Regions from separate parts of the Homo sapiens genome. Here region 2 is linked to region 1. The links come from fine-mapping of genetic effects on gene expression. Tissue or cell type: whole blood. Region 1 holds a variant in brackets; the other region holds the start of a gene. All regions are shown on one strand. Distances are between the middles of the regions.

The links. PIP is the estimated chance that this variant, and not a neighbour inherited with it, causes the effect.
Region 2: it holds the start of RBM33, and the variant in region 1 is fine-mapped to the expression of RBM33 in whole blood (INTERVAL, PIP above 0.99).

The regions. Positions count from the first base shown.
Region 1 is chr7:155,779,528-155,782,284 of GRCh38, forward strand. RBM33 (RNA binding motif protein 33) reads left to right here. Exons shown (of 18, transcript NM_053043.3): 18 at 1-1,953. Among named protein-coding and RNA genes, the nearest start is that of SHH, 32 kb to the right of the region's middle. RefSeq lists a silencer at 1,928-2,222 and an enhancer at 2,475-2,757. The variant A/ACTCCATCACCT (reference allele first, on the strand shown) is at 1,255.
Region 2 is chr7:155,643,510-155,646,266 of GRCh38, forward strand. RBM33 (RNA binding motif protein 33) reads left to right here and starts at 1,152. Exons shown (of 18, transcript NM_053043.3): 1 at 1,152-1,410. The coding sequence starts at 1,368. RBM33-DT (RBM33 divergent transcript) reads right to left here and starts at 897. Exons shown (of 3, transcript NR_126344.1): 1 at 705-897; 2 at 1-95. RefSeq lists an enhancer at 91-1,045 and a silencer at 970-1,479.

The DNA.
Region 1 (2,757 bases):
TTAATATTAAATCCTAAGGATTTTATGTAAGGTTTTTTTGCAACCTATTTAATTTTTTTTAAATGCCTAACTTCTGAGGTGCATAAGCCCGTGGTTTGTGTACTGGAACTAAAGCGGAACTCACTGATTCATATTGGATCCCCAGGTATACCTTCTGCTGGTAGCATATGGCTGGAAAAGGCCGTTTGCCTCACACATTGTAACCTGCCTTGGCTAGAAAATGCTTTTAATGTCTCAACTCTCTCTTTTCTGTGTCATGTTTTGGTAGGAAATCTTTAAGATTGGCGGACGGAACAGGTATTTTAGTGAGACACTTCTGAGTACTTGCTTTTTCCTTTGACTTCTAACCAACTAAAAGAGAAGGAGGTCTTCATGTTGATATTTTGCTTGGTTTTATTTTACTGATTTTAAAAGGTATATAGAAAAATGTAGGCCTTTAAAAAGAAACAGCATGTAGTTTTTTATTTTAATATGTTCCATAGAGTGGATAGGCAGACAGGTACTATTGTAATGTATTCTGTATTTAATAATTTAATATACTCTAGAAAGTAGACCTCATGCATTCTTTTAGCATGATTTTCTTTTAAACTGCTTTTCATTTTAAGGGCACCCGTGGCGGAAGCTGGTTTTGCAAGGACTGTGTAAGCTGTATGCGTTCTAGCTGTATGCGTTCTGTAGTCTTTTCTTAGGTGGGTAACATTTTCAATAACGCGCGCACAGCACACAGGGGTGCCCTGAGCCGAAGGAGCAAAAAAAGCCACCGCTCGTTTCTATAATCCAGCTTTGCTTTTCACAGGCGTGGGATCCAGGATGGTGTCCTCTGTGAGGACTTGAACTCTGGGGCTTTAATTCCACTGTTTAATTTTCAGGTACCACAGCAGCAAAGCACAGAGTGTGACCTTTTTCATGTCTGAGCTGATTCTGTTTGCTCCACGTGCCTGCTTCTTGCTACTGTTCATTTAGTAATGGGATCACCTCACCATGCCATGCTCTGGGCTCTCCCTCTCTGTCCATTTCTGTTTTGCTTTCCTGGCTAAACCCATCTACCATTCTTAACACTGGTAGCTCCTGTCCCATTCCAAGACTCACTCTCTCAGACCTTCCCATCTCCCTGGCTTTCCATGCTCCTCTCCCTCCACCTCCTGGCTTCAACTGGGTGAGGGCCGTATTCCTGCCACTCTGCTCCGCCTCAGCCTTGAGAACTCCACGTGGGCTGGGTGGGAAGGTGCTGACGATTTTCACACTGTGTTTACC[A/ACTCCATCACCT]CTCCATCACCTCTCAACCTTTGCTTCGACAGGTCTTCACTCACGATTTATTCCTCCAGGTCTTTGATTGGAGAGAGTAACTTTTTAATTCTGTTGTTTTGCAGTTTGGCTCTGTAGGAGTGAGTGGCGATTCAAAGATGCCGGCGTCCCGCAGTGTGCGGTTCGTGCCCTTAACCACCCGCTTCTTTGTTTCCCGCCCCTCTGCTTTCGCAGGAGCTCTTGTGCTTGAGTTCAGTGTTAGTGGTAGCGTGGCTCACTCCACTTGGAGGTGGCGGCCGTCTGACCGTGTGTTACTGCTTTGCCGACGGGGCCTCCCGGCCCTGATGCGTGTACACTCTGCGGGCTGCACCGGGTGGCTCTGGTTGGGGGCGAAGCTGTGTTGACTGGGAGAGCGTTGGAAATTGAGACATGGAGAGATGACGGGAGTGCGTTTCTCTGGGTTTGATCTCCATCCTGTTTTCTCCCAGACACACCACACCTACCTTGGGGGAATGCCGTTGCCTGTTCCACCCCTTTGTTCACTTCGCGTTAACTGCTGTGGTAACTTTTTCAGGATCTGTGTGAAGAATGGTAATGACGTAGTTGAAAGGAAAATGTACTGTTGTGTGTTTCATTTGTGTGATTTCGTACCAAAAAAATGTGTTTGAACTATATTGTATGTAATTTGGAAGTCGTGTTAATAAAACCCTGCAGTTTCCACTCTGGTTCCGTAGCCTTCATTTTGTCTGGGCGCTCAGGTCGGGCCACAGCTCATCTTACCTGTGTGTCCGAGACGGTGCTTCCGCACCTCTGTAAGGGGCCGGGGTCGGGGGCTGCCCTCACGCTCCCCAGATTGGCCGCTGGGTTGCAGCCCGCGGCTTTCACGCAGCTCTCTCATTAGTGGGCCACGAAGGTCAAGGGCAGCCGCCGCCTCCTTGCCTGCATTCTGGGCGCTGCATGACTCCGAACTGACCAGGCAGACGGCATCAAAGTATGCTCCTTTTGGTTGGGGGTGGGGGAGTTAGTCTTTTTAATTTTTTAAAGCATTATAGATAATTTTTACAAGTTTTCTTCAGAAGAGACTTGTATTCCAGCATGGCAATAAGAGACTGAAGGTGGGGAAGCTCAGTCTCCAGTGACGCCGTTCTTCCAAGGTGGCGTGTTCTTGCCGTGTGCAGGCCTCGCTGGAGGTTGGGATCACAGTGCATATGCCATCATGTATATTTTCCATTTCATGTATCCCACGTGTTTTTCATGTTGTTAGAAATTGCTCATAATTTATGGTCTATTTTGAAAATGAAGTCTTTAAAAAGAAGGCAGCTCTGTTTCCAGAAACTACTGTCCAAAACATTCAAGAAGATAACCCCCATCACACCCCCTGCTGTGCCCTGTGATGGGCCGGCTTCCCCTCTCACCCGGATGCTGGTGTTGGTGTCTGTGCTGGGGTTCGGGGGTCGCTGGTGACCAGCTCCAGCCTGCCTGTGTACTGTGATGGGCCGGCTTCCCCTCTCACCCGGATGCTGG
Region 2 (2,757 bases), 140 kb before region 1:
ATGGACGTCTTGATTGTTAACTCACGGCACTGGACCTCCAGTTTCATGCCTCTCCACATTGCAGGGTCCTCTACGTTGTTGTATCAGTCACCTTTCTAAAATACAAATCTTACCATGTAAATTGTTTCTAAAATCTTTCAATAGACCCCATAGACTCAGAAAAACGTCCCAAAGTCCGGAATCCTGGCCCCTGCCTACCTTTCCAGTTTCATTGCTGGGTCAGAACGCCTCACCTAAGCCCCACATTGACCGATATGGAATCAATGTTTACAGCCGGTGTGTACTTAATCAACCCCCTTCCCCGACTGCGACCACTCAGATGCGCCTTCCCGGGCCCCACACCCCAAAACCCCTGAGCCCTTTCGTCCACAGCTGTCTGACCACCCAGCACCCTTTCCTTTATGTCAAGTATGAGGATTTCGTTTCTTAACCTTTCTCACTGCTCAAAATGCAAACTCAGACATGAGTGCCGGGCGCTATCCGTCCTGCTCACGTCTTGTTCTCAGGGCCGCAAGGCGCAGGGGCAGTAAGGGCCGAGAGCCCATCAGGGTCCGGCGCTGCCCGCTGCCCAGCCGGGCGCGGAGAAGGGGACGGGGGTCCGGGGTCGCGGGTCCGGAGGGTCTCGGGTTGTAGGAAGTGAGGGCTCGCGGGCGCCGCACGAGTGCGCGTGCACGTTAGCCCGGCGCGCGCGGCACTCATCTCACCTCGCGGAAGCACCTGCCGGAGCTGTGTGCACCCTTTCCTGCCCTCAACACAAGCCGTCGGCGTTCACTACTGTAGCTCATTCAGACCCCACTCTCCAACCTACTGTCCAGGCACAGAAACGACAGTTAAGGTTCCCCCGGACCGTACGCTGGACCTTGCCTCCCCGGCTCCTAACGGGAGACGGGCTGCCGTAAAGCTTCGCTTTGCCGACTGCTGCAAAGCGCCTTACGACTGAACCCGGAATCGACCTATGGCCAGCAGTCGTCCCCGCCCTGCTTCAAACATTTGGGTTTCAGGAGCCGGGCGGAGGTGACTGCCGCGTGTTTGCGTTGCACGCCCACCGCCCGAAACACGGCGGCGGCCTCAGGGCTGCTGCGGCCTCGGCGGGGGCAGGCCCCGGCGCCCGCCCGCCTCCCGGCCTCCATCATCCCAGGGTGCACCGCGGCGGGCGCGGGCGCGCGGCCATGTTGCGGTAGTTTGTTGTTTTCTTCCTGCGGAGGCGAAGGGCCAGCTGTGGACCGCGAAGCGCCCGGCTTCGCCTCTGCCTCCTGCAGCCCCCTCCCTTCTCTGTCCTCCGTCACCCGTACCCGGGCCCGGACCAGGCACGTCGGCCCACCAGCTGGCTTGGTGGGGGAGGCTGAAGGCCGGGCCCCGCGAGTGCCATGGCGGCCGCCCTGGGAGCGAGCGGAGGAGCAGGCGCCGGAGGTACGTGAGGCAGCCGGACTCTGGGGGCCAGGACCGCGCCGCGGTGGGCGGGGGTGTAGGCCGGGGGGCCTCCCCGCTTAGGAGAGGACGAGGCTCTCCCCGGCTCCGACTCTCTTTGTGTTCGGCCTATTCCGTTTTCTCCCTCGCCTTCCCTCGCTATTGTCATTCTCCCTTTCTCGCTCCTCCTCTCCGCTGTGCAGATCGTACTTACCTGTGAACTTCTGTGTGTCCTCTACTTTGCAAGGCTGCCTAAGTGTCAGGCCCATCTCTGGCGTTGGCGGGCATTAAGTGCCGAAGCCGGCCTGGTGTCCTATGGGTAGGAGAGCGCCCCCCCCACCCCCCGAGACAGTGTCACTTAGGGAGAGCGGGGCAGGTCGCTGTAGGGTGGGTGTTTAAGATTGTGGGGCCATCCTGACAGATTTAGATTGATTTGAAGCCCATTACAAAAACATAACGAAAAGATTCACCTGTGTGAAGGAATGTGCGACAGTAGGCCAGTTTGGAAAGTGAGATTTCTTGAGAAAGTCTCAATAAATCCCTGTTTTAAATTAACTTATTTGTTGTCTAATAACCTGTTAGTGTTTTATGTGCGTCTTCCAAAAGTGAAAACGTGACACAAAAGGTTTAGATACTGAGTCAGTTCCTTTGGATAGTTTTTCTTGTTTGCAAGCATAAACAGTATTGATGAAACACCTATCTCTAAAAAATTGTAGGTAAATTACTTTCAGGTAAAATTACATATCACTGGGGGTTTTAAAAACGTGGAGAGATACTTGAAAGTGACTTTTTAAGTGATTATTTTGAAAACTTTGAAAAGATGGTAAAATATGGATAACAAAAGCATTTGGGATTAGTTCTTACCATTGAAACGTTGAAAAGCCAGTCTAGTGTATACTCGAGAAGTATTTTTTAGTAAATGCTAGCAGATGGTTACGTTGTTATCATCCTGTTTAGGAATTTTGGCCCAACTGTCAAAACGTTTGCCTGACAAAATGGAAAAACAAAAAAGACTAAGTGTAGGAATGTCGCTTCTGGCAATTTGGTTTGCTATATGCCACTTTTCTTTCAGTTTAAATACATGATGTTTGCGTGTTACATCTGAGACTAATTAAAATTTTAAAATGTATAGTTCACCTATCTTTCTGGGGGTCAGAATTACTTGTTTTATAGCATTCCCAGTGTAACCTGGGAACTCTTGGGTGAACACTCTTTTCATTAGAAAGACTAAGGTGTTATTTGTATTTTTTCTCTTTTCTTTCAGTAGTGTACAGTGGAGTTTTCTAGAGGCTGAATAACATGTGAAGACGTTATGCTGATGGCTAATGGAATATATGCTTGTGTATTCTT